Regions from separate parts of the Homo sapiens genome. Here regions 1 and 2 are each linked to region 3. The links come from fine-mapping of genetic effects on gene expression. A gene starts in region 3. Each other region holds a variant in brackets. All regions are shown on one strand. Distances are from middle to middle.

Region 1 (11,022 bases), 58 kb before region 3:
TGGCCCCGCCTCCTGGACTTCCATCTGTCATCAGGAGAACATAACCATCTGGAGTCAGTACAGATCATCAATCCTTCCACATATACAAGTTCATTTTAAATTTTTAAAAATATAATACAACTGAGAAGTCTTCATTAAATTGTTCTGGTGGTCCTACCTGTTTTCTGTTAGGGATCCAATACATCTCAGAGCCACATGGGTGATGCCATAATGCCAGGGCTGAAACACTGCTTTAGGGGTCTTTTACTTTCCTATTGCTGCTATAAAAAATTACCACAAACCTTGAGGCTTCAAACATCACAAATTTATTTTCTTACACTTCTGGAGGTCAGATGTTCAAAATGGGTCTTAGAGCTAAGACCAAGGGGCAACAGAGCTCCCTTCCTTCTGCAAGCTGTAGGGAAGGCTCTGTTCCTTGACTTTTCTGGCTTCTAAGGCCTGCCTGCATTCTTTGTCTCATGATCACATCACTGTGACCTCTACTTCTGTCATCATGTTTCCTTCTCTAACTTTCCTGCCTCCCTCTCTCCCTAATAAGGACCCTTGTGATTATATTTGGGCCTACATGGATAATGCAGCATATGCTCAAGATCCCTAACTTAATCACATCTGCAAAGTTCCTTTTGCCATGTAAGTTAACACATTCACAGGTTTTAGGGATTAGGATGTGGACATCTTCAGTGGGGATGCGGGCATTATTCTGCTGACTACAGGGTCTGATATAATCGGAGGCCCACTTCCTAGAAATCAGAGAACCTGATTTCTAGTCTGCAATTAGGAAATTCAATTAGGAGAGTGCATAGGGATTGCTGGTATCTCTGTTTTACCTTTGACTTATTAGACTGTAGCCACAAATTCTGGCCCCAGCCTATAGAATGTTATAATGAGAAGCACTGGCTTTAAAGTCATACTAACTTGACTGGGATTTGTTTTTTGTTTGTTTGTTTGTTTGTTTTAGACAGGGTCTTGCTCTGTCACCCAGGGTGGGGTGCAGTGGCGTGATCATGGCTCACTGCAGCCTCGACCTCCCAGGCTCAAGTGATCCCCATACCTCAGCCCCACAAGTAGCTGGGACTACAGGCGTGCACCCACCACACCCAGCTAATTTTTTTATTGCTTGAAGAGATAGAGTCTCACTATGTTGCCCAGGCTGATCTTGAACTCCTGGGCTCCAACAGTCCTCCCATCTCAGCCTCCCAGTTCTCGGATTACCCTCATGAGCCACTGTGCCTGGTCTCACCTGGGTTTTCATCTCATAGGAGCTCTGAGAGCTTGGGCAAGTTCCTCACCTTCTGTGAACTTCAGTTTTCACCTCTCTTCTCTGGGGAGGTCTTAGAGGAAAGAGACTCAGAGACTCACCTGCAGGATACTCTTAGGAATAATGCTGGTAAGGGAGGGAGAAAAGCAGGATTGGACTGCAATGAAGTCACAAGGAAGGCTTCAGCTGATCCCCAAGGGACTGTGTTGATGGGATGGCCTCCCATGGCCTCCCTTTAAGGCAAAGGAGACAGACATTGGTTTCCCCTGAGTCAATCTGCCAGGATTGGGACTACATAAGAAGAGTGAGATGCTTGCCTTGAGGACAAAATTTAGAGGGCGTCAAAAAGCTCAGTAGCCAAGATAAATAATATTTTAATGTATTATTATTTTTTAAACCTAAATTAATGCAAAAGTCAGCCTTTATTTAAAAATTTCAGTATTTTGTTCAGGGTGAACTTTTGCATTGGTTAGTATTTTTTAAATAATGCTTTAAAATAGAGAGTGTTTTGGGGAGCCATATTGGAGCCTCAAGCAAAGAGAAAAATCAGTCATATTGATTATATCTTTATTTAAAATTGTGATATTTTGATAATTACAGAACCTTTGCATTTTTTATTTTTAAAATATTACATTAAAATATTGTTTGATTACTGAGTTTTTGGCTCCTGCTTAAATTTAGCACTCAAGGCCAGTTTTTCACCCTAGTCCTGGTCCTGCATTGTACACAGGCTGCCCCACTCTCTCTTCAGGAGGAAATATAGTCTTAATCCAAGGCCAGTGCTTGGAGAGGGGTTTAGCTATGAGCCATTAGCAGCCAATACTCCTGGCATCTGGGGAAATGAGTGCCTTGATTTTGAATAGGGGCATGGTGCCTACCATAGTATCCACTGTGATACTGTGATGTCGACATATAATAAGATTGTTTTGTCATATAGTCATTCACTCATTGGGATAGTAAGATTGTCATGAAGGACATAAAGACTTATGTGAGAGGAACTTCAAGAAGCCTGACTGGAGGCATCTGACACTTACCTCCTCCACAGACAAGAACCAAAATAGCAAGTGCATAATCAAACTTCGAATAGAGCATCTAAGAGAGAATATTGGAATTCAACAGAGAAGGAACAGGAAGCACCTGAGGCATGGAAGGAGCAGGAAGGGAGGCAGTCAGCTCAGCTGGGATCAGCTGGGAGCTCATAAAGACTCCCTAGTTCAGGAAAAGGGTAAGCAGTAGATACCCACCTTTCCATATTCCCACCATGGACTCCTGATACCCTAGCCATGGGAGACCCCATCACAGGCTCTCAGAATAGCATAGGGACCTGCCTGGAGATGACACAAAGGCATTGCTCTAGAGTGGGAGTTCATAATGGTCCAACGCACCCACCAAGTCCTAAGCAGATTCACCATAGGGCCATTTTGAGAGCTTAGGACCCACTGGAGGTTGCATCCCGCCTTGGGGCCCAAGAGCCCCTGCACCTTCACGTCCCTGGAGCCCCACTGACACCATTCTGTGTCCACCCAGAGAGCCGTAGCAGCAATAACACCAGTCAGACTCAGCAGAATGGCAGGGTCCCCAGCACTCCAGCACACACAGTGCCCTGTATGCCAGGTAAACGGTGGTGCAGCACCCTAGGGAGGCTCTCCCAGGACAAAGAAAGCCAAAGCACATACTCTCTATGGCCAGAGAACCACCTACCTGGGACAGCTACCACATATAATGACCCTGCCCCCAGCAGCAGGGCTACTGCAATCACACTCTGAGGACAGACCCTCTCATCACCAGCCACAGCCACTATTGCTGCCACCAGAAGCCAAAACACATGTAGCTGGTCACGACTCCATCTACCAAGCAGCAGGGCTCCCATCACGCATTTGCACATTTCCTGAGAACTAGTTTTCCCTGCTGCTACTACAGCTGATATACCACTGCCACTGCCACTGGGGATTAAAGCATCCCTCCTCCCACACAGCCTAAGAACTGCCTGCCTGTGGCTATAGTTACTGTCAGAAACTCTGCCTCTACTCCAACAGCAGGACTGCAGCATACTTGGACATACCCTAATGGCAGGCTTTCCCTGCCTACCACCCCTGTTGTAGCAGACTCCCAAGCTCTCTACTGGGAGCCTGAGTGTCACTCCTCTCTGCCCACCATAGCCAGGGCCTGATTACATTCCTGGGGTCCCTGGAAACAGGCCTACCTGGCCTGGCACTCCCCCCACTCCAGTGCCCTAGAACACTGTCTAAGGGCTTGTCTCACCCTGTCCACCACCACTGGCATCTGTGCAGTCCTCCTAGGGCTGCTACCACCACAGCAGCACCCACTGCACATACTGCCTAGGGAATGAGGGACTGACATACCCAGCTCCTTGTAGATATCACTAACACCAATGTGTGTCACTTCAGAGCCCAAGGATTGTCTTGCCATTACTACTGCCATCACCCACATCACACATGCTATCCAGGGACCAAGGACCCACTCGACTGACTGACCCACCACTACCACTGCAGCACTTCAGCCATCTGTAGACCTAAGTATTGGCCTGTTTCAACCCACTAACACTGGTGACTTCATACGCCAACTGGGAACCCGAGGCCAGGCATGCTTGGTCTACTGCTGCCGCGACTGGAATCTGATGACTGGCCTACCTGTAATCCTCATCCTCAACAAAACCTCACCATAGCCTCCACTAACAACAACAACCTAAGCCACTTAGGAAATCACAGACACAGCTGATGCTGTTTACAGCTGAATAAATCATATGGAGACTACACTACTGCATGCACCCAGAATCAAAGCTAGTGTCCTACCCAACCAACAGCATAGATGTATCTTCAGGAAAAATCCCTTCCCTTGTAAAAGTCAATTCAAAAAAAAATTGGAAGAAGTGACTGTTACACCGGAGGTACAGTTATCAACGTAAAAACACAAGAAACCAATCCAGGCAACATAGCAAACCTTGTCTGTGCTAAAAATAAAAATAAAATGTTAGCCAGGAATGGCAGCACACTGCAGGCTATAGTCCTAAATACTTAGCAGGTTGAGGCAGGCTTGAGAGTAGGAACTTGAGTTCATAGTGAGCTATGATTGATAACACTGAAAATAATTGAAAGAAATCAGAAAAACAATTCAGGATGTGAGTGAGAAATTCACCAGAGATAGATATAATAAAAAAGAACAAACCAGAAGTCCTGGAAAGAAAGAATTCAATGAATGAAATTTTAAAAATTCATACAAGAGCTTCAACAATAGATCAAACAAAAGCAAAAATCTCAGAACCTGAAGACAAGTCTTTTGAAATTGCCCAGTCAGATTTTTTGAAAAGAAGAAAAGAGAATAAAAAAGAATGAACAAATCCTGTGACATAAGAACACAACACAACTAAATACATGAATTTTGGGTGTTCCAGAAGGTGAAGAGACCAAATCCATAGAAAACCTATTTAACAAAATAATAGCTGAAAACTTCCCAAGTCTAGCAAGAGATTTAGACATATAGATATGGGACGTTTATAATCCCTAAATAGATATAAGTCAAAAAAGTTATTCTCCAAGGCATATTAAGGTAAAAGTCAAAACCAAAGAGCATTATAAAAACAGCAAGAGAAAAGTGTTTAGTCACATATTAGGGAACCTCTATCAGACTAACTGGGGATTTTTAAAAATACATATAGCAAAAATATTACAGGTCAGGAGACAATAGAATGATATATTCAAAGTGATTAAAAAAAAAACTGTCAACCCAGAATACAATACCCAGCAAAGTTGTCCTTCATAAATGAAAGAAAAATAAAA[T/C]CTTTCCCAAACAAGCAGAAACTGAGGGAATTCATCACTGCTAGACCAGACCTACAAGAAATGATCAAGGGCATTCTATACCTGGAAACAAAAGAATGATATCTACCATCATGAAAACACATGAAAGTATAAAACTCACTGGTAAAGCAAACCCACAAATAAGGAAGAGAAAGAACCCAAATGTTATCACTACAGAGAAACACCAAACCACAATGATAAACAACAAAAGAGAAAGAAAGAAAGGAAAAAAGAAAGGAAAAAGATAGAAAACAACCAGAAGATAATTAACAAAATGACAAGGATAAGTCCACACTTACCAATAATAACCTTGAATGTGAACAAATTAAATTTTCCACTTAAAATGTATAGACTAGCTAAATATAATAGATTTTTTTAAAACATGACTCAACTATATGCTACCTATAAGAAACTCATTTTACCTGTAAAGACATATATAGACTAAAAGTAAAGGGATGGAAAAAGACATTCCATACAAATGGAAAACAAAAAAACAAGCAGAAGTAGCTATACTTATATCAATATCATATAAAACAGAATTTAAGTCAAAAAACAGTAAAAATAGATAGAAAAAGGTCATTAAAACACAATAAAGGGATCAATTCAGCAAGAAGATTTAAAAATTCTAAATATATATCACCCAACATTGGTATATATAAATTAAATATTATTAGACCTAAAGGCAGAGATAGACTCCAATATAATAATAGTTTTAGACTTCAACACCCCATTATCAGCATTAGACAAATGATCTAGACAGGAATCAATAAAGAAACATTGGATTTAAATTGCAACTTAGACCAAATGGACCTATTCAACATCAACAGAACATTTTATTCAACAACAGTAGATACACGTTCTTCTCATCAGCACATGAGACATTCTCCAAAAAAGACCATAAGTTAGGCTACAAAACAAGTCCCAATAAATTCTTAAAAATTGAAATCATACTCAGCATCTTCTTAGACCATGGTGGAATAAAACTAGAAATCAGTAACAAGAGGAACTTTGGAAACTGTACAAATATATGAAAATTAATATGCTCTCAGCAACCATTGGGTGAATGAAAAAATTAAGAAGGAAATTAAAAAAGAAATTTTTGAAACAAAAAATGGAAACACAACATACCAAAACCTGTGGGATATAGCAAAAGCAGTGCTAAGAGGGAAGTTTATAGCAATAAATGCCTATATCAATAAAGTAAAAAAATAACAAATTAACAAACCAATAATATACTTAGGGGAACTAGAAAAGCGAGAACAAACCAAACTCGAAATCAGCAGAAGAAAAGAAATAATAAAGATAGGGGCAAAACTAAATGAAATAAAGACAAAAGAAGTAAGACAAAGGATCAACAAAATGATAAGCTGATTTTTCTAAAAGATAAATAAAATGAATAAACTGCTAACCAACCCAGCCAAGAAAAGAATTCGCAAATAAACACAATCAGAAATGAAAAAGGCAACATTACAGCTGATACCACAAGAACACAGAATACCATCAGATACTATTATGAACACCTATACAACAGACTGAAAAACATAGAGGAAATGGATGAATTCCTGGACATATATAACCTACCAACAATGAATCAGGAATAAATAGAAAACCTGAGAAGACTAATAACAAATAACAAGATTGAATCAGTAACAAAAAGTCTCTTAACAAAAAAAAGTCCAGAACCAGATGGCTTCACTGCCAAATTCTACCAAACTTACACAGAAGAATTAACACTAATTGTTATCAAAATATTCCAAGAAATTGAAGAGGAGGGAATTCTTCCCAACTCATTTTACAAGGCCAGCATTACTCTGATACACAAACCAGACAAGGGCACAACAAAAAAAGAAAACTACACATCACTATACATGGTGAATATAAATGCAAAAATCTTCAACAAAATACTAGCAAACCAAATCCAGTAGCACTTCAAAAATATAATACAAGTGGGATTTATCCCAGAGATGCAATGGTGGTTCAATGTATGCAAATCAATAAATGTGACACAGCACACCACCAGAATGAAGGACAAAAACCATGTGATAACCTCAATAAATGCAGAAAAAACATTTGATAAAGTCCAACGATCCTTCATAATAAAAACTCTCAACAAACTAGGCATACCGGAAGCATATCTGAACATAATAAAGTCTATAAATAACAAACCCTCAATTAACATCATAATAAATGGGGAAAGACTGCAAGCATTTCCTCAAAGAACTGGAACAAAACAAGGATGCCCACTTTCATCACTCATATTCAGCATAGTACTGGAAGTCTTAGCCAGAGCAATCAGGCAAAGAAAAGAAAGAAAAGGCTTCCAAATTGGAAAGGAGGAAATCAAATTGATCCTCTTTGCTGATAACATAAAACTGTTAGATATGATAAGTAAATTTAGTAAAGTTGCAAGATACAAAGTCAACATAAAAAAAATCAGTAGCATCTTTACATATCAGTAATGATACAGCCGAAAAAGAAATCAAGCAGGCAATCCCAGTTACAATAAATCCCATTTACAATAAACTAAATCCAGGAATAAATTTAATCAAAGATGTGAAAGATCTCTATAAGAAAAACTACAAAATACTGGTGAAAGAAATTAGAGAGGACACAAAACAAATGGAAAGTCACCTCATGCTCATGGATTGGAAGAATTAATATTGTTAAAATGACCATGCAACCCAAATCAATTTACAGATTCAATGCAATCCCTATTAAGATATCAATGTTATTTTTCACTAGAATAGAAAAAAACAACTCTAAAATTGTTACAGATCAAAAAAACAGCTCTAATGGCCAAAGCAATACTGAGAAAAAAAAGCAAAGCTGGACGTATCACACTACCTGACTTCAAAATATATTACAAGGCTATAGTAATCAAAACAGCATGGTATTGGTACAAAAACAGACACAGGCCAATGGAACAAATAGAGAACCCAAGGTTAGGCATGGTAGCTCACACCTGTAATCCCAGCATTTTGGGAGGCCAAGGTGGGAGGATTGCTTGAGGCCAGGAGCTCAAAAACAGTCTGGGCAACATGGCAAGACCCCAGGTCTAAAAAAAAAAAAAAAAAATAGCCAGGCATGTAGTCTGCTTCTGTAATCTCAGCTACTTGGGAGGTTGGGGCAGGAGGATTGCTTGGGCCCAGGAGGTTGAGGCTGCAGTGAAACGTGATTGTGCGACAGAGCAAAACTTTGTCTCAAAAACAAAAACAAACAAAAAAACAAAAAATAGAGAACCCAGAAATAAACCCACATTTTTATAGCCAACTGATTTTCAACAAAGGCTCCAAGAACACACATTGGGGAAAGGATATCCACTCCAATACGTGGTGCTGGTAAAACTGGATCTTCATATGCAGAAGAATAAAACTAGACAGCTATCTCTCATCATATAAAAATATCAATTCAAAATGGATTAAAGTCCTAAACATAAGACCCAAAACTATAAAACTGCTAGGAGAAAACATAGAGGAAACACCACAGGATATTGGCCTAGGCATAGATTTTATGGCTAAGATCTCAAAAGTGCAGGCAACAAATACAAGAATGGAGATGGGACTATGTTAAACTAAAAATCTTCTGCACAGCAAAGGAGATCATCAATAGAGTGAAGAGACAACCTGTTGAATAGGATAAAATATTTGCAAATTATTCATCTGATAGAAACTAATATCCAGAATATGCAAGGAACTCAAACAGTTCAACAGCCAAAAAAAACTTAATAATCCTACTAAAATATGGGCAAAGTACATAAATAGACATTTCTCTAAAGAAGACATACAAATGGCCAACAGTTATATTTTTAAAATGCTCAGTATTTCTAATCATCAGCGAAATGCAAATCAAAACCACAATGAGATATCATCTTACCCCAGTTAGATGGACTATTAATAAGAATTAAAAAAAAACAGATGTTGGTGAGGATGCAGAGAAAAAGGAGCTCTTATACACTGTTGATGGGAATGTAAATTAGTATAGCCACTATGAAAAATAACATGGAGATTTCTCAAAAATCATACTATCCAGCAATCCCATTGCTGTGTATTTATCCATAAGAAAGGAAATCATATCAAAGGGATACCTGCACTCACATGTTTATTGCAGCACTATTCACAAAAGCAAAGATATAGAATCAACCTGAGTGTCCACTATTGGATGATTGGATAAAGAAAATTTGTATATACACACAATGTAATACTATTCACCTTTCATTAAGAAAGAATGAAATCTGGTCATTTGCAGCAACATGGATGGAACTGGAGGTCACCATATTAAGTGAAATAAGCCAAGCACAGAAAACAAATATTGCATGTTCTCACTTGTATGTCGGAGCTAAAAAAGTGGATCTCATAGAAGTACAGAGTGAAATATTAGGTTGGTACAAAAGTAATTGCAGTTTTTGCCATTTAAAAGTAATGTTAAAAGTAATAGTTACCAATTGGCAAGAATGTGTGTGTGTGGGTGGGTAGAGGAATGGATGGGCATAAATTGGTACAAACATACAGTTAAGTAGAAGGAATAAGTTCTAATGTTTGATAGCAGAGTAGGATGTCTATAGTTAGCAGCAGTGTATTGTATATATATCAAAATAACTAGAAGAGAGGGCTAGAAATGTTCTCAACACATAAAAATGACAAATACTCAAGGTGCTGGACACCCTAAATACTCTGACTTGATCATCACACATTCTATGCATGTAACAAAATACCACATGTACTGCATAAAAGTGTACAAATAGTATATATTAATTACAAAAAAAAATCGTGTGGCTACCAAAACTCATTATTTCAGGTGCTAGCAAATGTAGTCACAACCAAGACTAGGCTTGAACTCTTCCTTTCAGCTTCCTGACAGCCAAGTAACGGAGTGAAAGGTCAGATAATTTACTTAGACCTGAGACTGCCATTAATATTGTCAACAAATTGCTTTGATCTACAGCTCATTAGCTTTGGTTGGAATTGCTAAGCAAATAAGCCAAAGTGAAATTTTGTTCTATCCAATGGCCTATCTAGTACCTTAACCCCAGACAACCTTCTTACATGGTGATCACAACTAAGCTGGTGAATGGGCATAAATCTTTTATTGCTACCAGAAAAAAAAAAAATCAAAGTGCAAGCTCTATCAAATGTAAGTGAATGCCCATGATGTGTCTAGCATCTATACACTGTGTTCTAGAAGTATGTTAATTTGGCTTAAAGAAAAACTATAAATTCTTTGTCTTCATTCAGAAATCAGTAATTCTCAAAAGGGAAGGTAGTTTATAACCCCTAGGAAGATCAGTGATTCTCAAAAGGTGGTACGGTTTATAACCTCTAGGGGTCACATCCGAATCTCCTGAGGAAAATGCTGAACTATGCAATCCCTTCTCAACTTTCCCCTAGAGACAGATTCTAACAACATTGTCTCCTATGAAAGATTTCATGATTACTGTCATGAATCACTATTATTGATGGGAGAAAAAGTTTATATCAGGTATATTGAGATGCAAAAGGAAAAGAATCACTGTTATAAGCTGAAATTGTTGATGGAAGTGCACAGGAAACAAAACAGCAGCAAGATATTACACAATTAGCTGACATGTATAGTGACATTTTTGCCAGATTACACACAAAAAAATATAACTGTAGTTTTTTCATGAGCCAAATTTCAATAACAGCTATTAAATGGTATTTAAAATGCATCATTTATAGAAATGACCTTTTTCAGAAGAACTGGAAAATTTTAACTCATATATACTAGCTGAAGGAAAAAAAGGTTCTTGCTTATATTTCAATAAGCCCTCTCTGCATTGAGAAAAGAACATTGTTGACTACCTTTTGTTTCTTGGCTTGATACTAGTTCTCTAGCTTTCTTCTTTTTTTGTTTTCTTTTTTTTAAATACACAATTTTTACTAATGCAAACCTCACATTGACTCAGATGAAAGAGGCAACAGAATTTCTGGATAC
Region 2 (11,022 bases), 28 kb after region 3:
TTTAATGGAGAGGAATATCAATATTTTTGCAACCCCAATAAATTGTAGTAAATTGTAACAATTATTTTCTTCCAAAAGTGTAATTTTCTTGAGGACAAGATATCTTTGTATTCTCATTAACCATAAGAGTACATTGGTAGCTTATGTTCAGTTGTTGGTTAAATGAATGAATTGAGCCATGCCTGTAGGACTGAATAGCTACTAATACCATCGATCATTTCTGTTTATAGGTACTACCATTAAAGATACCTTCTTCTCAGCAAATCTATGATAAAAAATATAAGTAACAGAAGAAGAAATAACTGTTATTTGTCAAGTGACAAGCTTTTAATGTCAGAATGGCTCACCTAAAGCGACTAGTAAAATTACACATTAAAAGACATTACCATAAAAAGTTCTGGAAGCTTGGTGCAGTAATTTTTTTCTTTATAATAGTTTTGGTTTTAATGCAAAGAGAAGTAAGTGTTCAATATTCCAAAGAGGAATCAAGGATGGAAAGGAACATGAAAAACAAAAACAAGATGTTGGATTTAATGCTAGAAGCTGTAAACAATATTAAGGATGCCATGCCAAAAATGCAAATAGGAGCACCTGTCAGGCAAAACATTGATGCTGGTGAGAGACCTTGTTTGCAAGGATATTATACAGCAGCAGAATTGAAGCCTGTCCTTGACCGTCCACCTCAGGATTCAAATGCACCTGGTGCTTCTGGTAAAGCATTCAAGACAACCAATTTAAGTGTTGAAGAGCAAAAGGAAAAGGAACGTGGGGAAGCTAAACACTGCTTTAATGCTTTCGCAAGTGACAGGATTTCTTTGCACCGAGATCTTGGACCAGACACTCGACCTCCTGAGTATGTTGAAGAATATTTATTGTTTATTCTTTATCACCAGGCTTTGCAGGGGAGAGAGGGGTGAGCTAAGGAAGTTATCTGTTTTTTAGCTACTCTAAGGCAGAAAATCAGCAAATACTGTTTATTTAACCTGTTGTATTTATTTTTTGCTTATAATGATTGAGGCTACATATCCCTATTTATGCTTGGTGAGGCAGTGCAGATATGAAAAGTTATTAGCTTGGAAATTAGAAAACTGAATTCTAGATCTGACTGCTATCCACAAGGAAATTCTTTATTCCTAAATACTGTGGTTTTCTCATCTATTTAGGGGGAATTATTGGACAATTTGTATAGGAAGTAGAAGGTAGAGGAATTGTTTCCATTTCTCTGTATTTCTTTAGAATAAAAATGTTTAAAAACATGCCAAGATTTTGGAACTGTTGGATAATATTTTATATATGTGTAAAGCAATTCACAGACTTTGTGATTACTTTGACTCAAAGTTTTTGAGTACCTAATTATATTTCAGAATGCCCTATTTTTTGTAAACAATCCCAAGTAGCTGGGATTACAGGCGCCCGCCACCACAGCTGGCTAATTTTGTGTATTTTTAGTAGAAACGGGGTTTCACCATGTTGCCCAGGCTGGTCTTGAACTCCTGACCTCAGGTGATCCATCTGCCTTGGCCTCCCAAAGTGCTGGGAGTACAGGCATGAGCCATTGCACCTGGCCCACCCTCAACAGATTATTTATTTATTTATTTATTATTATTATTATTATTATTATTATTATTATTTTGAGATGGAGTCTTTCTCTTTCACTGAGGCTGGAGTGCAGTAGTGTGATCTCGGCTCACTGCAACCTCTGCCTCCTGGGTTCAAGCGATTCTCCAGTGTCAGGCTCCCGAGCAGCTGGGACTACAGGCATGTGGCACCACGTCCGGCTAATTTTTGTATTTTTAATAGAGACAGGGTTTCACCATGTTGGCCAGGCTGGTCTCGAACTCCTGACCTCAAGTGATCCGCCCACCTCAGCCTCCCAAAGTGCTGGGATTACAGGCGTGAGCCACTGCACCCAGCCCCTCAGTAAGTTTTTAAGTGTACAAGATAGGCCAGGTTTGGTGGCTCACACCTGTAATCCCAGCACTTTGGGAGGCCGAGGAGGGCAGATCAGCTGAGGTCAGGAGTTTGAGAGCAGCCTGGCCAACATGGTGAAACCCCGTCTCTATTAAAAATACAAAAATTAGCCGGACAGGGTGCCGTGTGCCTGTAGTCCCAGCTACTGGGGAGCCTGACGCTGGAGAATTGCTTGAACCTGGGGGCAGAGGTTGAAGTGAGCGGAGATCTGTGCCGTTGCACTCCAGCCTGGGCGACAAGAACGAAACTCCATCTCCAAAAAAAAAAAAAAAAAAGAGTACAAGATAAGCAAACTGGAAGCAAACAATGCCTGTGTATTTTGCTTTGCTTTCTGGATATTAGAGAATTACATTTGGCAGTGAACTTGAAGATAACTTTTGGTCTATTGTTTCACTCAGGTTTTTCTAGATTTAGGATTATCAATACTGGATCCAAGTATATGAGTCCCTTAACATTGAAACTGTGTAGCTTAGATTTCTGTTGAGCTATTCTAATCTGATTGATTCAAGTTTAGGTTGCTCATAATTTTTAAATGAATGTGTAAAGAAACTAATATCTATAAAATATTCTAGCTGATATAACAAGGCACATTATAGTTCCTTTCATACAGTAATAGATTAGAATGCAGTATTGCACTTTACTGACTTGAAGAGAGGTTTTGATTGAAAAGTAATCTACATTAAAAATCAATAATCATGATTTTTATTCTTTTGACATGACAATCAGTGACAGCTCAAAATGAGCTTTTTTCTCCCAATATAGCATTAAGAAGCTGCAATAATTTTCAATAATGTTAATCGCTAAGTAAGTGAAAAACAAGTAAGCACATTAACAACATTTTTTGGTTGGAGTGAAGATTTAATTATTTCTTACTTTGGACAGGGTTTTGTACAGGTGGTAAAGATTTGTTTTTTGACTTCGTGATCTGCCCGCCTTGGCCTCCCAAAGTGCTGGGATTAAAGGCATGAGCTACTGTGCCTGGCCTGGCCAACATGGTGAAACCTCATTTCTACTAAAAATACATAAATTAGGTGGGCATGGTGATGTGCGCCTGTAGTCCCAGCTACTTGGGAGGCTGAGGCAGGAGAATCACTTGAACCCGGGAAGCGGAGGTTGCAGTGAGCCGAGATTGCACCATTGCACTCCAGCCTGGTGACAGAGCAAGACTCTGTCTCAAAAAAAAAAAAAAAAAAAAAAAGATTTGTTTTTTACTTTGAATGTAACCAGTATCAGCAAATAACACATTTTCTGAAGAACTGCTAATGTTTTCCATGCTCATTAGAAATATAGACCTAGTTTCTCCCAAAGCCAGATGGTCATGTGACTGATAATTTAAGCATGTTTCTATGTGCCAGGTTTTTCAAATGGTTTGACTGGAATGATACAGTCACTTTGGCAAGTTATTTTAATTGCACTATTTTAAATATGTAAAACAATTTTCAAAGCATACATTTAACATGTTGTTTCAAAATGAATGGGGTTTATGAAATTATATTGTGAAATTTTATTACTTGTATTGATATGACATTTGTACTTGATATTGGTAATTATCAGTTAAGCAAATAAATCCTAGTTTAAACTGACGGAAAATCTTGCAAGATTAAAGTGATAACATTTTACTAGTATGAATTTTTGTGAAATTTTATACTTTAAATCTTCAAAACCATTTTATAATTATCGATTAATACTATATTAATTAACCACATAGCAAATAAAGGTAGGAAAAAAATCTTATACTCAGAATTTCACTTTCTCCTCAAAATGCTTATAACAAATCATAGGTTTCCTCTTTTTTTTTTCTTTAAAAATAAAATACCACAATATGGAATTTTTCATAATTTTTACTTCTAGTTTATGTTGGTTATAAACTTTTATGGGTTCAAAATATAAGCTTATATTTAGTCATTTATTTCTGTGTAGTTGTGGTTCAAGTGTGTATATTAATAGTTTGTGTTTGAGCTTTTTTATTAATTGGTAGTTTATCCAAAATTCAATTTAGAATAAATAATTTGTTTTTATTTATGAATGATGAAGAAGGTGCTTATTTTTTCCGCCCATGCACCTGTATCATGCTTTGAAATCATGAAGAAACTGAAGAGCAATGCCACTTTCACTCAGAATCCATCCTCTCCTTTTTCTAATCTGTTGTTGACATCTTCTCTTGATATTTTACCCCAATCCAACTCCTTTTTTTAATCACTACAAATAATCCATTCTAAAGACTTGCTGTTAAAAAAGGGTATCAGAGACATTCCTATTGAGGTATGACTATGAAAGTAATTAATGGGATAATTTGTGTATCTTTTTTTAGGGCAGTTTTCTCAGGCCCCTAATATCACACTGGAGGCTACAGTTTCCCCATTGGCCCTGGCAGAGGAACTGAAGGGTGATGGGCTTTTATCTCCAATTTATGGTTTTTAAGTGACCTTAAAGATATAGTTGCTTTATTTGCTTATCTTTCCCATAAACCTCACACAGTTTTATTTTATGTCCCAGTGACTTGAAGCCCTCTCCTATATGTTCTTTCATTTAATCCTCACCTCCATTCAGCAGGCTTGGCACTGTGGTTATCTCTACATCTCTAGCCTCAAAGGCTGGAGACTATGCAGACTCTCCTGCACCCCAGTGGCTTAATATGAAGATATTTTTCATTGAGGAAAGACATTCCTATACAAATGAATTTGAGATCAATTTATAAGTAATGTTTTTAACTAATGGATAGTAGTACCACTAATCAGTCAAGGGCACTTAGGGTCTCTCTCCCTGTGCCCAATCAATGTTTTAGATGGTGACATGAGCACAGGACTTTTAACATGGATTTAGGTCTTTATTTAGATCTTTATTTCTACGTATTTTTAAAGGGTTTTTTTAAACGCTAGTCTTATTTGATAGTAGATCAAATTATTGGAGCAAAATCTTTAACACATGGCAAATGGCAGTACTTAATAAGTATTTGCTGAATGATGAACATCATAAAAAGATAGGTTTAGGCTGGACATGATGGCTCACCCCTATAATCCCACCACTATGGGAGGCTTAGGCAGGAAGATTGCTTGAGGTCAGGAGTTCAAGACCAGCCTGGGCAACATCACAGACTGTCTCTATTTTAAATAAAAATAAGAAGAACATAGGTTTTACAATAAAGCTATTTTTTCCCTTTTGATTCTGTGTATAGATTAAGTAAATTGATTCAATAAACCTAGGAAATACTTAAGAAACCTATATTACATACTTAGGTAAATATCTAATTAAAGATAATCTTTATAAAAATGATTTAATATTGTGGGCGCAGTGGCACACGTGTGTAATCCCAGCACTTTGGGAGGCCTAGGCGGGTGGATCACAAGGTCAGGTGATCGAGACCATCCTGGCTAACATGGTAAAACCCCGTCTCTACTAAAAATACCAAAAATTAGCCGGGTGTGGTGGTGGGCGCCTGTAGTCCCAGCTACTCGGGAGCTGAGGCAGGAGAAATGCGTGAACCTGGGAGGTGAAGCTTGCAGTGAGCCGAGATCGTGCCACTGCACTCCAGCCTGGGCGACAGAGAGAGACTCCATAAAAAAAAAAAAATTAATAAAGTGGTACAATTTTTAAAGTTGCAAATATGAAAAATGAATGATTTCTGCATGAAATAAGAAAAATTTGGTTTTTATTTGAGCAATTATAAGGGTTTGTCATTTTTACATGCTGCCTCATTGTAGGTTATTTTCATTATTTAAAATGTTATTTGCATTTAAAATTACATTGTTGAGAAAGCTATAATAACATGTTGTAATCCTTGATATGTTGTCATCTCTGTTGGTAGACATCATCTCTGGGTGAGTGATTTGCTTGTAAAAAAATTGTTTTGATTTATTTACATTTTATATAGCATTGAGATTATATCACATACAAGAAAACTATCCTTTTTCAGTGATAAAGATTCAATAATGATAATGTTAGCAATGGTATAGCTGTGAAATAAAATAATAAAATTTGTAATTGTTTTTCTACTTCTCTGACTTCTTCTAGATGTATTGAACAAAAATTTAAGCGCTGCCCTCCCCTGCCCACCACCAGTGTCATAATAGTTTTTCATAATGAAGCGTGGTCCACGTTGCTTAGAACTGTCCACAGTGTGCTCTATTCTTCACCTGCAATACTGCTGAAGGAAATCATTTTGGT[G/A]GATGATGCTAGTGTAGATGGTAAGAAAGCACATGCAAATTAGATTGTTTCCCAAATCCATATTGTGGTATCTACAGTCTACTTGGTTATGTGGTACTCTCTGTATGCCATCTCAGAGCTTGAATATAATAGTTTGGATAGTGGGTATGGTGAATGAAATTAGAATCCAAGGATGGACATATTCAAATATTTTCAAATGCAGAAATGTATGAAACACCATTATTCATAACTATGTAGTCCTCAATGTGAGACTGTTACAGTAAGGCATAGAGGTTAAGAGCACAGACTTGAGCCTTTGAGTCAGGCTGCCTTGATTTGAATCCCAGCTCTTTTCCTAACCAACTATATGACTTGGGCAAGTTACTCAACCTCTCTGCTGTGATTTATCAGCAAAATGGGAATAATGCCATATTTCATTAAATATATTATGTGTTGTTAATTTATAAATCACTAGAGAAAACCCACAGCTAATTAAACTTAACATGCCATTGATTATAAGAAATTGATTATAAGAAGAATCCAATTGTGTAGCTTAAAATTGAGGAAATACAGAACTAGTACATAATTTCTAGAGTTGTTTTAAAGACTGAATGAGTTAATATAAATATCAATAAATAATATAAATGAATAGTTAAAAAGAGTCACCATGTTCTATTTTATTTCGGTGTTCTTAAATATTCCAATATTACTTACAATGTTAGTCAAATTCTTTAGTACATTTCCACTTAAAATTGGAAGTCAAATACTAAATTACACATTTTAAATTGGAATCACAAGGCTAATTTAACAAATACTCTAACTTGTAAATTTTCAAACATCATAAGTATTTTAAATATTGTGTCAAACAGATACATATTATTTCAATGATTACAAAATTTATTCCTTAATAAATCCAAGTTTGGAGTTAGATTCCTGAAGGTCAGATATCTCATTTTATCCTCCCAGCAATGTCTTGTGATGGTGAGTCCGATTATCCTCATCTTAAAGAAACTGAGGCGCAGAAAAGGTAAAATTCCTTGCCCAAGGTCACACAGCTAAAAGTAATTGTGCCATAAAGTGAAATCAGGGCATCTGATTTCATGTAGCTTTCTGTTCTTAACCTCCCAAATAAAGGGTGTGCATGGGAGCTAAATTTAGGGTGCAGATATAAATTTACGGGAAGTTCATATGTTGTGGGTAAGTAAATTTTTTTTTAACAAATTCCAACAGTGAGAGGGTATATTGAAGCAATCTGTAGTAACTCCATTTAAAATAATTCTAACCAAGAATGTTGAAATTTTTACAAGCCTCTTAAAACAGAAAATGTTTATGATTATATATTTAAGATGAGTTACAATTCTGCTTGTCTTTCTGAGAATTATTTCTGAGGTAGTTAGAAGGTGTTAAAAGCTTAATCTGAGAATTATTTTGAGGTAGTTAGAAGGTGTTAAAAAGTTAATCTATTACTCTGAGACAACAGTGTTTAGATAGATTTATTTTTCTACAAGGGTTGTTCCTGCACTTTCCTCTCTTATGAATGTTTAAGCTTTAAATAAGCAGCTCTCTTAACTGAACCACTGGAGAATTGAAAAAAAGGTTATATTATCACAGATAAAGTCAAAGTCATCTGCATTTCCTTCTAAAATCTGGCAGAAGCAAACTTTTGCCCCAGGACATTTATTGATTTTCTTAACATTCCCAAATTTTTTTGAGGCTATGTTTTGGGCCCAAGAAGGCTGCTTGAAGAACTGCATTTTGTACTCAATAAGAAATCAAAAATTTAATTGAGAAAAACAGGCTTAAGAAGTTGTTTCAGAATATGAACAGCTGGGCGCAGTGGCTCAACCTGTAATCCCAGCATTTTGGGAGGCTGAGGCCTGCAAATAGCTTGAGTTCAGGAGTTCCAGACCAGCCTGGGCAACATGATGAAACCCCGTCTCTAAAAAAAAAAAAAAAGAAAAGAAAAGAAAAATTAGCTGGGCCTGTTGGAGCATGCCTGTGGTCCCAGCTACTTGGGAAGCTGAGGAAAACTGCTTGCAGCCCAGAGGCGGAGGTTGCAGTGAGTTGTGCCACTGCACTCCACCCTGGGCGACAGAGCAAGACCTTGTCTCAAAACAAAACCAGACAAAAAAACAACACTGGATTGACATTTGTTAATAACTTTTTTAAAACCTATGATCTCAAATTTTGCTTATTACAAACCTTATCCAATTTGGTATATTGAATATCTTAAAGTATATACCCAATACTAAAATTTGCCTGTTTCATATTTTACTAAATAAAACTGTCAGGAGACTCCAAAGCTTTCGCAAATTTTTCTGCTGACTCTGTGTAGGAATCGTCCCAAACTGCTATAGCTGTGGACTTTCTGACGTGGCTCAACATTTTGGTGTTAAATTATTTTGATCCTTGCTTAAATATCAGAGGTCTTTAGATATTTGACATTTTTCTTTAAGATTTCCAGATTTAAATACCAATTTCAAAGCATTGAATATCTTTTTGGCCAAATTCCATATCTTTCACTCTTGTAGTCAGTCTTCTCAGACCTCTAAATGAGTCTTTTGAACGGCTAGGGTTGACTCCATTTGAAGTTTCTCACTTCCCTCCAAACACATTATATTTATTGATAGGAAGTGTACAGAATAAGTATGCATTACAGTGTTTTGTGTTACAGTAGTGATAATTTGCATAGCTAGCCTTTTTCCCCAGTAAGGAGTTAAAGATAAAATTTTCATTTTGCTGGAAGGACACATGCAACTGTTAAGATTATGAATTTGGAAGGATCATTGCTCTGTGGTTTCATTAGCTTTCATAAGCTATATATGAAAATGCATTTAGAAAGAATTAACCCTGATTTTTTTTCCTTACAGAGTACTTACATGATAAACTAGATGAATATGTAAAACAATTTTCTATAGTAAAAATAGTCAGACAAAGAGAAAGAAAAGGTCTGATCACTGCTCGGTTGCTAGGAGCAACAGTCGCAACAGCTGAAACGCTCACATTTTTAGATGCTCACTGTAAGTATATATGTATGGATATGGTTGTAACATTTTCCCTCCCTCTCCCTCTAATTTAAAAGGTAAGGAAGTCTTTTCTTTTCTAAATGCCTAATTGCATTTTCTTTAACAGCGTTTTCAACTGGCGATTATAGCAATGACAGCCCAAGCAGGTAACAGCTCTGTGGAGAAAATTCCTTTCACTTATGCAGAATTCTTATCTCCTTTTGTGTTTAAGTTTCCTCAACTTCAGTGTTCTCCAGTTACTAGCTGTTCCAGCCAGTTATCCTTGCCTCTTTTTTTTTTTTCCATGTTTCTTTTCTGTTAAAAAAAAAAGTGTTTGTTTGTTTGTTTGTTTGTTTTCTTGATTCCCACACTTTAAAGTGAATGAAAGCTTATTTACTATTTAAATGTAGCCGGGCGTGGTGGCTCATTCCTGTAATCCCAGCACTTTGGGAGGCCGGCGTTGGTGAATCATTTGAGGTCAGGAGTTCAAGATCAGCCTGGCCAACAAGGTGAAACCCTGTCTCTACTAAAAATACAAAAATTAGCCAGGCATGGTGACATGTGCCTATAATTCCAGCTACTAGGGAGACTGAGGAATGGGAATCGCTTGAACCTGGGAGGCAGAGGTTGCAGTGAGCTGAGATTGTGCCACTGCACTCTAGCCTGGGCAGCAGAGTGACACTCCGTTTCAAAATGAATGAATGAATGAATGAGTGAGTGAATATAATCCACCCTATCATTAAACTTCGTCCTAGTACTGCTGCTTTTTTTATATTTTAGTTTGTGTGTGTGTTTTTTTTTTTAAATTTGCAGACTCCTTGGCATAAAAAGGAGTCTGCGAATTTTCAATAAAAACCACAAAACCAAAATATGTTTATATATATACTTTTTATGCCAGGTTAGGGGTGCCCCATCCCATCTTCTTTGGTATCCCTTACATAAACATTGTCAATTTTTGTTTGACTTTGCTGCTGTTGGTTTTTCTTTGTACTTTAATTATTTTCAGAGTCAAAGTTTTTGAAGTATTTAGAAAGCATTTTTAGAGTCAATGTGTCATATGCATGCTAGTTATTACTAAACTGTCATTTTGTCCCTTGAGCTCTGAGTTTAGTGGGCTATACTTTGTATGAGTGTCTAGCTTTGAATTGGCCAGTGCTTAGGTTATGTTTCACCCAATTACTAGTTTTGAGCACACACCGATTATTACAGAAGGGCTTTTGGATGTGCTTGTGTTGCTTAGAGCCATCACATTCAGTTCTCTTTTAATACCAGACATTTAGAAAATGAAGAGAACACTAAAGGTAATGCTAGAGAGGTGCTTTAAAAAGGAAAATACCATCCTCTGGTATTTCTTCTCGTTGTTCAAAATTACAATAAGATCATACTGGACATTCTTACCCACTACCCACTGGGTGGATATGTCTGACGGTCCTCCCGGACCATGACTGCCAAATACTGCTTTGTGGGGAGCCCAGAATAGGACAGCACATGCATTGGCTGAACTTGCTGTGTGTTACATAAAACAGCCTGGCCTGTGACCAGGGCTTAGACCTATCATGACATGAAACTCCTTGGCCCTCCCTTTATATTAGGTCTGGGGCAGCTTTGAATGGTCCTTCTTCTCCAGTTGCTAAAATCGGAATTTATACTGACTCCTTATTTTCTCCTAAGACCCAGTCAGATAAATGAAAATTTCAATTACTGTACCTTATTCAGGGAGATACGAGTTTAAATAAATCAGAACACTTTTAGGGCCAGGTAATGTGGAACAGCAAAAAGCTACCTTTGACTCATAGGCCATTTTAACACATCATCTAAACTTTAAATACACTGGTGTTATTTTGCATCTTTTGTAGAAGAAAGAAGGTCATCATCTGTAGGGGAATTTTTCTAACTGTAGTGA
Region 3 (11,022 bases):
AGGCTGCAGTGAGCCATGATTGCACCACTGTGATCCAGCCTGGACAACAGAACAAGACCCTGTCTCAAAAGACAAAAATATCCCTGGCCTGGTGGCTCATGCGTGTAATCCCAGCACTTTGGGAGGCCGAGACAGGAGGATTGCTTGAGTTCAGGAGTTCAATTGCAGCCTAGGCAACATAGTGAAACCCCCATCTCTATATAAAACAAAAACAAAATAAAAGTCAATTAGAAGAAAATCGTAATAAATGTTTCAACAGATGAAGAGTATGATCATTATAGCACTGGTTGCAATAGCAAAATTTGGGAGCAATCTTCATTGTCCAACAGTAATTGACAGATTAAATCCTTACAAAGGGATATCAGGCAGCCATTAAAATAATACTGTAAAATAAATTTATTGACATTTAATTATATGTCAAGTAGAAAACTCTGGCTACAAAACAAGTCCCCAGAATGATCTAGTTTTTATTTTACAAACCTGTCTCTGTATCCCTCTATGTTCCCCATTCCATGCCGTGCCTCCTGCCAACTTTTTCAATAAAAAAAATCTGCAAAGATACATGATAGAAAGGGTCTGATAGCACTGATTCATCTTGGTATAAGGAATTCTGAGTATTTCAAAGCTAGTTTCTTTGCAGTTATGTGTATTTTCTGATTTCTCTGTAATGAATATTAATTTCTTTTCAATTTAAAGAAACATGTTACAGAAAAAGAGAAATCAATTTAGGAAAAGAGTGAGTGAGGGATACTCGAGTACATCACTGAGGTCAACATCATGCAAGACTATCACCATAGTTTTCCACAAAATATTCTTTGGTGCCACTGTCAGAATTTAGAGCCAGTTAGATTGAATATTATTCTGACTCAGCATGACATTTCTTTTTGCTCTTATGCTAATGCTTAAAAGCTTGAAACAATGCACTCTATTCAATACATTTCATCAAATATTTATTGAGTGCCTACTATGTGCCAAGTACTAAGAATACAAGATTAGCAAGACATAGTTTTGTTGTAATCTAAGTCAACCCCTCATAGTATGTGAACCACTTTGAAAATCTGAGATGATTGTTCTGAGATTCTACAGGGGGAAGAATCATATAAAACAATGTCCAAAAAAGTTCATACTAAAATAACCTATTTATATTTTCCCTGTTTTAACTTGCTATATTTTAAACACAATGTAGAATTATGTTGGATCATTATTTAAAAAATACCCACGTGTTTGTGGCTCTTCACTGTGATACCACCTCTATTCTCTGCTTGAATCAATAGCATTTCAACACTTTTACTGCTTTGAGAAGAAATTATTCCAGTCTGTTCAGTCTTTGAGCCAAATCTCTCAGTCTGACTTTGAGATCCTCACTAAAAGCTCTAGTTCCCTCATGAGGCAAAACTGTTTCTAGAGTATGTTTCAAAGCAAAGTTGTGTAACCAACAATTAAACAATTAACAAACTAAAATAGTTTAAAGTTAGGCTTAGTAACTTTACACATTTACTTGTTACATTATATATTACAACTATTTTTTATGAATTAAAATTTCGATCTCAGCTAAATAATTTCAGTTTCTTCATCTTTGCTGTCCCATTAATTATTATTGCTATATCCAGAAGGTTTCATTTATTTATTTATTTATTTGCCCAATTCTCTTGGCATAGAGTTTATATGAATCAGAATGTAAAGAAGCCTGTAGATCATCTTGTACCACTATTTTGTTTTGTGGAAGAGAATATTTAAGCCAGATGTAAAGTAATTTGTAGGAGTGTAAGTTGTTTTGCGTAGTGTCTTTTGAAATGTAGGTATGTGAAAGCTGGTAGCTATTGTTCTTAGAACTTTGCAATTCAGATTACCAGTCTAGTGTTCTTATCTGCCTTGGATTATTTGTCATTACTGTTGGGTAAAACCATTCTTTAGACCTGTAAATTGCTCAAGACACTAGGCATTTTTTTTATGGTACTTGATGGGTCAATTTATTCATTTAACACATATTTATTAAGTACCTACTAAGTGCCAGGTGCTGGTCTTGGCATTAATTTAAATGTTAACAGAAAGTATTAAGGAGTGAGTATTGTTTCAAATCCATGCAAATGAGCATTTTGTGGCTAGTCGTGTGTGTGTGTGTGTGTGTGTGTGTGTGTGTGTAATAAGTACGTGTGTGTGTGTGAGAGAGAGAGAGAGAGAATGTTTGTTTCCTTCCTGTGTAAAATCTGCCCAGTTTTCTATCTTAACTGTCATTATATGTCAAACATATACTATTAAAATTAGCTTATTTCTGAAGCATGTCTACACTAAGGTTCCTGGATTTTATTTATGATGAAATGCTAATTTCTCTTTATGAAACAAATTCTTTATTTCATAATTTTGAATAGGATGGTACTTTCAAAAACCTGCATCTGATTAGATTTGGGGCATTAAATATTTCAATATGATAATATTTTTTTCTTGGGCCTGCAGCATTTTAATTTTATTGTCACATAGAAAATTTTTTATTAATATTAAGACTTTGCTTTCAGAATGCTTTGAAATAGTACAAGCAACGTTGTGTAAAATAGTACAGGTGGAGCATCCCTAATCCACAGATCCAAAATCTGAAATGTTCCAAAATTCAAAACTTTTTGAGCACCAACATGACACCACAAGTTGAAAATTCCACACATAAGTACTTTACACAAACTTTGTTTCATGCATAAAATTATTTACAATGTTTTATAAAATTACCTTAAGGCTATGTGTATAAGGTGTATATGAAACATAAATGAATTTTGTGTTTAGACAGGTCTCATCCCCAAGATATCTCTCTCTCTCTCTCTCTCACTCTCTCTCACTCTCTCTCTTTCTCTCTCTCTATATATATGACACTCAACGTGCACAAGTAATGCCACACTCAGAAAAACTGCTTCCTTCTTTAAATTGTCTGTCTCCATTGTAAAACTGACAGTCAAATTTTAGTAACTCCTGATCTTTTTTGTTTCTTCTGTTCTTTTTAGACTCCTCATCCAGCATTTTGGTCCTGTTTGCTGGCTCTCTCTTTTAATAGGTCTACCCTAGCTTCTCTTTTCAGTTGTTATTTGACGTTACTAGTCTTGCTGTCAATGCATCTCAGTCCTTGGATTCCAGATTGTTATTCTATATCCATCTGCTCTGTCCTGATTGTCAGTGAAAAGTGTTGCTCTTCGCCTGGTGGGACATCAAAACTCTGACAATCTTTGGCTCTTCATTCAGAGATGGGTGGTGCGTGCAAAAGGGTACAGGTTTCTTGGTTATACATTTAGGATACCTTACAAATTTTCCAAAGACTAACATTAACCTCTGGTTAGGGGTAAACGACAAAGTGGCACAACGAAGAAGAAGGAGAAGGAGAAGAGAATTTCAGTAGTTAGTATTTTCAGTTCTGGACCTGGACCTAAGGAAAAACACTGCCAAGTTAGTATATCAATACACACAAGTATCTCCTGAACTATTTTTTTGTTTGTTTGTTTTTGGAGGGAAAGGGAGCTTGGCAATTGCTTGTAGGTACTGATATTAAAATGTTGCAAATACATGGAGGTTCCTTGGTGCTCGCAAAATAACCATGACATGTAAAACAAGCAAAGAACTACCTAGTTTACTAAAGTCTTAAACCCTAACTCATAGATGTCCTAGTATAAAATAGCACTATGGATGCTAAAACCAATGTCTTAGAGTAGTCAAATACTAAAGATACACTTGTTGATACTATACTAAACTGTATTTTAAACCTTATTTTTAGGTCACGCATAGCACTAATAAAACAGTGAATAAGCACCATAAGAGCATGTCAAAATGTAGGAGGAAGGCCACAACTAAACTTCATAGTAAAACCTACCACCATGTGATTAAACACGACACCAAAAAGTTTTTAGCTAGTTTTCTATTTATATCCCTAGATATCTTTGGGATAGGGCCAAAGAAATGAGTTCATAGAAAGGTATAAAGGCCATTTTAAGTCCTGGTTTTGGGTGTGTCAATGTTTGTTGCAGCAGCAGAAGGAAGGCTGAAACAGAAAGTTGTGTCATAAATGGAACAAATACTGTTTAACAATTTTTTTTTGTCTTAAAAACAGCAAAACCCACCATCTTCCTGGAGTCTGCGTTGTTCTCTTCCAGAATAGATGTTGAGCTTTTAAACAAACCTGCAGTAGAAGCAAGCCCTCTCCAGGAAATCCCAATCTCTTTCCAAACAGGGACAGCAAAGGTTCTCTCTGTTGTGGCTGTTTTTCCCTCTCTTCTGGGAATTGGTTTGCCTTCTGAGAGCATCCCAGGAAGGGGAGGTGCGCCCCAAATTGGCGAGGCTCTGCCAAATACCAAAGGCTCTTCTTTGGAAGAAGACTCCTCCTTTGGACGTGAGGCGCCCCTACCAGAGCGCCCGCGTACAGAAACGGAAACCACTAGCTGCGCTGAAGTGAGTCAAGTGATGAAATCAAGACTACACGGGAAGGAAGCTCACGAAACCTAACTGGTGACAGAAGCTGCTGAACCCTGCCCGAAGAAACCACATGAGCCAGCAGTTGCTGCCCTCCCGAAGTGGTCCTCGGAGGCAGCGCACCCCTTCATTTTGGCGAACCGAGGAGGAAGGGAGGAACCGTGTGGGGGAAATCTAGAACTTCTGGTTCCCCAAGGACCCAGCAGACTGTGTTCTGGCTACAAGGTGATCACTGCCACCAGGTCAGTGCAGGATTCCTCCAATGTAGATGGGCCGGGAGCCACAACTTGCGCGGAGCAGCAGCCTCGCCGACCACTCAGAGAGAAGCCGCGCGACAGCCAGGCTTGGCCCGGACGGCGCCCCCACCCTGCGCGCGCGATCCAAGGTTCTCACCTGGAGCGCTCAGGTAGGGCTGGGGCGGGGCGGGAGGCTGGCGCGCAGGCGCGGAAGTGGGGCCTCGCCCCTGCCGACGTCGCAGGCTGGAGCTCACCTGGGAGACTCCAAGTGGAAGCCGAGCCTCGGTTCTGCCTCTCCAGGCAACGCGGGAGGCCCAGCGGGAAGGCAGGAGGCGGCGGCGGAGGAGGAGCTCTACTGAGCCGCAACTGTGGCGACAGCAACCGGAGTCGCAGCCGCCGCCACCTGCACCTGGCGCCTAGCCCACGTCCAGCGCCTGCCCGGCCGCCGCTTCCCGCCACCCTGCCCTGCCCACCCGCCAGGTAAGCCGGCGGCAGGCGGAGGGAGACGCGGTACCCCTGGGCTGCGTTAGAGCAGGCGGGAGGACGGCCGCAGGGGTTCACGTGTTGGGGACAGGGCTACGGTCCAGGTGGCCGGTTGGAGACGGTCTCGAGAGCAGTGTGTCGGTTGCCCCTGGAGAGATCCCGAAAGGGGCGCCCTGGGCCAAGGGGCAGGTGGCGCCTCGGGGGGGAGCCCGGTCACACCCTCTCGCCCACGGTGCCCCCGCCAGTCCCTATGGGGCGGCCCCTGAGGAGCTGGACGGAGACCAAAGACCTGGTGGCCCCGGACTTGCCCTTGGGAGGGTCGCAGCGTGGGGACCCTGAGAGGGAGGGCCCGGCGGGAGGCGGGCGCGCTTCCACTCCGGCTAGCAGGTTGCCTGTCTCCTCCAGCCTCTCTGCCCGAGAGGACATCCCGCGACAGCGAAAGACATGGCTTTGCCAGGCAACTTTCCTAGCCGGGGACCCCAAACAGTTCTAGGCTGCAAACCGCGGCCGCCGAGCCATTTAAATGGTTTCCGAGTGGTTTGGAAAGGGCTCTGTGGCCGGGACGCGGACACCCCTCTCTCTCTGTTTCGACTCTGCACTTTTCCGGGTGCGCTCTCCAGGCCAGAGTTGGGCCCACTTTCCTGATCAATGGAGAAGAGTTCTTTTCTTCCGTGGCGGGAAGAAATCCAACTGCCACGCACCAACCACTCACCATCTCGTTAGAGGACCTGTTGACTTAAGGACCTGCATATCGCGGCTATGGTTTGCCTGTGGCATATGACTCAAAGGTTCAAAAAAACATTGTTTCAGGATCCTGCCACGTCTAAGCTTGGGTGTGCCAGGCCCAGATTCCTTTCCCTGCCTAATTAGGCTTTTCTGAAGCCTAAGAATTGAGGGTGAAACTGGCGCTTACCTTAGACTTTTATTTCCTTCTCTTTCCAACTCATCAAAGAAACTATTTCTGTTTTAAGAACCCCATCGAGTTACCAATATTTCCGATTCTTGAAAACGTTAACATAACTTGCTATAGAAGTTACACTACATAATGAAGACATTTACAGTCAAATTCTATAGCTAAAAAATATTAAAGTGACAGCATTTTAATTAGAAAATCTCTGCTTGTGGGAAAATCTGTTGCTTCTTTTATTGTATATATTTTTCTTTGCGTTTGTGGCTAAAATCCATGAGGTTAAAGTCACACGCTGCCATTAGATTCTTTTTTTTAATTTAACTTTTAATATCTGAAATCTAGTGCACATGTTAAACTTTCCAAGCAATTTGTACCGAGAATCAATCTTTATATATTGCTTTAACCAACATTTTTACGTAGAAGTTTCTGATAATAATAACAATTCCATTGTTTTGTTCTATCTCCACACATTTTAAAAATATTTTTTAAATTGCACGTTTTACTTAAAATGCCTGATGCAACATGTAGTGGGGTTATTTTTCTTCTTCTTTTTAAGATTAGATGGAAATCTAAAAGCCAACCACAGCATAACATGATGTAATTATTAATTCAATCACCACTTTTCTACATTTCTTAAAAGGATCTCACCTGACCTCTTAATCTTGTCTCCATACAGAGAAACAAATGTGCTAAATACTGTTTAAATATGAGATATAGGAGTTGTTCCCTGAATTTTGAATATTAGTCTTCATTACTTACTAGGCAGATGTTACCAGACTGTCTTTCCTCTTAACCTCTAGTGAGAAATGTAACATGTTTTCATTAGCTAGAGTAACAGTGTAACTTAATCTATCTGTTAAATAGGAAAAATAATACTTTCCTAGATTAAGATAACAAAACCTTAAAAACAATCAGGAGTATCTTCCAGCCCTAGCATTCTCGAGATCCCTTTCTCACTTTGGAGATTCAATACTCAAACCATCCATTTATGAAAAATTGAAGCCAAGAGAGGTATTCTAACTTCATTTCACTCAGAGATGGCATGATCATTCCAGTGGCTTGACTCATGACTCCTGTATCTTACTTTTCACCACCCACATCCTCACTTACCATAAGATGTTTATCTTTTTTCTTTCATATAATTTGTAAGGCCTTTGTAATTACAGAATTGTCCATTGCTCTTTCTTCACTCTGATTTACCCTCATTTCTACTTGTCCAAATATTGCCTGACTTCGTGGAAACTACCCAGTGAAGGCATCATGCTCCTCTCATTGTGGAATAGCATGCATATTGATGATGCCATGTCAGTTGAGACTTTTAGTTCCTTCTTGGTATTTCCAAGCCACAGTTAATTTTTTAAGTCAATGTGGATAACATTATTTAGTCTTCTGATCTTTTTATTATATTGGCTTAAAATATATTTTATGAGGCAGCTACCCAGTGCCTTTCATCCATTTGCAACACTCCAGATTTTTTATTTCAAGCACACTTCCTTAACACTAAGTTTCTTTAAACTTTTTTTTCCTTTTACTGCAATCCTCAATAACTAATTTATTCTCTGCCTCAACTCTGTAAACTCCAATGTGAGTGTATATAAATGAAACAAGTTTTATTAATATAAAACAGTGCTTAACCTTACAACATGTATGTTCTTTATTATTTTATTTTTAAAAACGTTGGTCTAAACAATTAGACTGCTTTATGACCACGAAAGTGCTGGAGCCCTCAATGTGAAAATAGCACTATTCTGTTGAATTTTTGTTCTTTTAAAGGCTGATTTTTCTACCAGCTTTCTTTTTCTCTGTCTCATACATGCGTATACACACACACACACACACACACACAGGCACACACCCACTCACATGAAAGAAAATAAATTATTTCTTAAAAACTTTACTGTAATCCTAATTAAACATGTATTGTAGGGCTTGAGGCTCCAGGACCTTGGTGCTAGATTAAATCTTTCAAATATTAAGAACTACATGAAACCTTGTTCATTATACATATTTTGTGTTAAATGGGTTCTCATCATGCTGTAGTGTATTTGGGAACAGGAAAAACTAGAAATATTTTTTTCTGAGGGGATTTTGATGATAAGAATTCAGTGAAATTTTGAGGGAGAAACCTTCTGTCCAGCTCTATTCTGAACTCTTAAAGTTTTATGACTGAGTTAGAGTTCTGGGTGGAGTCTGAAAATTTATTAGAGAAAACATAGCCAGTTTATTATTTGGTTTATATTCTGTTAATATTTAATGCTTTTCTTTTTTACTATGAAACAAGTATGAGACAAATTGTAGGAATTACACTCCCCCTCTCCACAAAAAGACTACATTGAGAGATTAAAATAGATCCCTCAATGATTTGTAGGAATGTAGTCTTGGAAGCTCTGATTGGATAATTAAGCCTTCCGTAGACACTTTCAATTTTAACCTGCCTTTACATTCTTGGTGGGTGAAATATTTCTCCTAAGGAAAATATTATCATATTTAGGATTTTAGAAATGATCAGTGCCTGAATCATCTTCACATGTATTCAGTTCTTTAGTCCATCAAGTGCAAAAATACATTTGGAATGATAGATACTTTATAGATATAAAATCCTATTGAAAAGGAAGGTGTTTTCAGTTAGCTGTTCAATTATGCATTTAGTTAGTATCAAAATAATTCATACTATGTAATTTGGGTGAAATTTAACACAACTCATGTACACTAAGGGGGAAAACTGAATTCAAATCAATTCCAGCAGTGGCAAGAGACAAAAGTACATTCACTTATTGCAAAGCAAAGACAAGTAGGACTCTGAATTCTAGGTCATTAGAGACTACTGACAATTATATGACACTTCCTTGGGTCATTCTCAGAGTTGGGCTCTTATTTTTGGCACTAAAGAGAGAATATTCCCCCAAGTACACCTTTTCCCTATAATTGTTTCAGTTTCAAACTGTCCAAACTAATTTTCTTTTCTATATGATTGCCTATTGGACATCTTTAACATTTGTTCATCACTGGAGATTATATATGTTCAAACCAGAACCTTCATCTCATCAAAAAACAAATGAACAAACAACCTGCTCACTCTCTGTATTCTATTTATAGATAGTAGTACATTGTACCATTTCTTATCTATAATTCAAAAATCATCCTCTGAAAACAAAGCAAAACAAAATTTAACTCATTTGTTAGCAAAACTTGAACTCAGTTGGAGCAAAGCCTGAGTGAACTGTCAGGAGGCTATTGTGATTGTGTATTCAACTTAGTGGATTATGTCCAGCTGCAGAAATAGTGCTGTTTGATTACATAATACTGCCCAGGCCCTGCTGGGGTACACTTTTACATTGATTATGTAAACCATATCACCTTTCTAACATCCAAAAAAATCAGATTTTTTTTTTTTTTTATGAGACAAGGTCTCACTATGTTGCCCAGGCTGATCTTGAACTCCTGGACTCAAGTGATCCTTCCATGTCAGCCTTCCAAGTAGCTGAGACTACAGGCTGTCAAATCCTGAATTTTGAAATATATTTTGCTGCAGAGATTTGGGAGAGTGAATCATAAATGTGTACTACCATCCAGGTGCCATACCAGAAATCCAGAGGTAATTTTAAACTCTTTTTCTTAGCCTCTACAACTGCTATGGTCTGAATGTTTGTGTTTTTCCAAAATTCATATGTTGAAATCAAATCCAATGTATTGGTATTAGGAGTAGGGTCTTTGGGAGGTCATCAGGTCACGAGGGCCTTGGCCTCGTGTGTTTTTGTAAAAGATAATGTCCTTATAAAAGAGGACTGAGAAAGCTTGTTAGCCTTTTGCCCTTCCTCCATGTGAGGATACCTAGGAGGCCATCTATGAGGGATGTGCCCTCGCCAGACATTGAATCTGCCAGCAGCTTGATATTGGACTTCCCAGCTTTCTGGCTGTGAGTGGTATATTTGTGTTGTTTAAATTACCCAGTCTAAGGTATTTTGTTATAGCATGAACTAAGACAACAACCATTAGAACACTGAATCCACTTAACATTTTATACCTTTCTCCCAGCCATAAATTCTTTCACTTCTACTGATCTAGTTTAAGGTCTTAACATCTCTCAACCAAGGTATCATAGCTGCCTCCTACCTGGTATCTCAGCAGATAGTGTTGTCAACCTCAAGTCCACCATCTGGAGGATGAGGATGATCTTTTTAGAAATGCAAATTCTCTCTCTCACTTAAAATCCTTCAACAATTTTCTGTTGCTTACCGGATAGAACCCACAGCCCTTAAAATGGTCCCATGGGATCTGAGACTTGCTTAACTCTGGAGTGATACTCCATAAGCCGAAATTTTATTTCCCAGCAATAGACTTCTTATTGTTTTTTTTTTCTTGTGTGCTTTTCTTTTGCACTTCCCACTGCAGAGAGTGCCTTTCCTTCTATCTTTACATCTATCTATAGCTCTTAATGGCTCTTAAAACTCAAAGAAGGTCTTGCTTCATTTGGGAAACTGTGTCCCCTCACCCACACCTCCACATATACCTGAGCAGGGTGAGGTGTCCTGTGTATACTTCTATTATTTGCTTGATACGATATAAATATAGTCTGCTTTTGCTCTTGTCTGTATACACACACACACACACACACACACACACACACACACACACCCTTTTGGATTATTTGCAAAACATGCAAAATTTCTCTTTCCATTAAGCCTTTTGTGGAATAAAAATTTTGGGGTAGAAATGTCACAGAAAGGGGAGAGGCATCGGCAGGCAATATAAGTCAATCTGCCTTTTTTTTTTTTTTTTTTTTTTGAGGTGATGTCTTGCTCTATCGCCCAGGCTGGAGTGCAGTGGCGTGATCTTGGCTCACTGCAAGCTCTGCCTCCTAGGTTCATGCCATTCTCCTGCCTCAGCCTCCCAAGTAGCCGGGACTACAGGTGCCTGGCTAATTTTTTTGTATTTTTAATAGAGACGGGGTTT

The links. PIP is the estimated chance that this variant, and not a neighbour inherited with it, causes the effect.
Region 1: its variant is the best candidate, but not a certain one, in a credible set for the expression of GALNT3 in nucleus accumbens (GTEx, PIP 0.67).
Region 2: its variant is the best candidate, but not a certain one, in a credible set for the expression of GALNT3 in monocytes after R848 (Quach 2016, PIP 0.67).

The regions. Positions count from the first base shown.
Region 1 is chr2:165,846,592-165,857,613 of GRCh38, reverse strand. LOC100506124 (a long non-coding RNA gene) reads left to right here. Exons shown (of 4, transcript NR_045375.2): 4 at 1-139. Among named protein-coding and RNA genes, the nearest start is that of GALNT3, 58 kb to the right of the region's middle. RefSeq lists an enhancer at 3,218-3,719. The variant T/C (reference allele first, on the strand shown) is at 5,056.
Region 2 is chr2:165,760,017-165,771,038 of GRCh38, reverse strand. GALNT3 (polypeptide N-acetylgalactosaminyltransferase 3) reads left to right here. Exons shown (of 11, transcript NM_004482.4): 2 at 231-853; 3 at 5,983-6,155; 4 at 8,985-9,134. The coding sequence starts at 339. Among named protein-coding and RNA genes, the nearest start is that of GALNT3, 29 kb to the left of the region's middle. The variant G/A (reference allele first, on the strand shown) is at 6,136.
Region 3 is chr2:165,788,149-165,799,170 of GRCh38, reverse strand. It overlaps GALNT3 (polypeptide N-acetylgalactosaminyltransferase 3), which reads left to right and starts at 4,924. Exons shown (of 11, transcript NM_004482.4): 1 at 4,924-5,156. It overlaps LOC124906086, which reads right to left and starts at 5,585. Exons shown (of 6, transcript XM_047446887.1): 1 at 5,379-5,585; 2 at 4,834-5,252; 3 at 4,092-4,371. The coding sequence starts at 5,585. RefSeq lists silencers at 4,982-5,131, 5,202-5,291 and enhancers at 4,362-5,267, 5,268-6,174.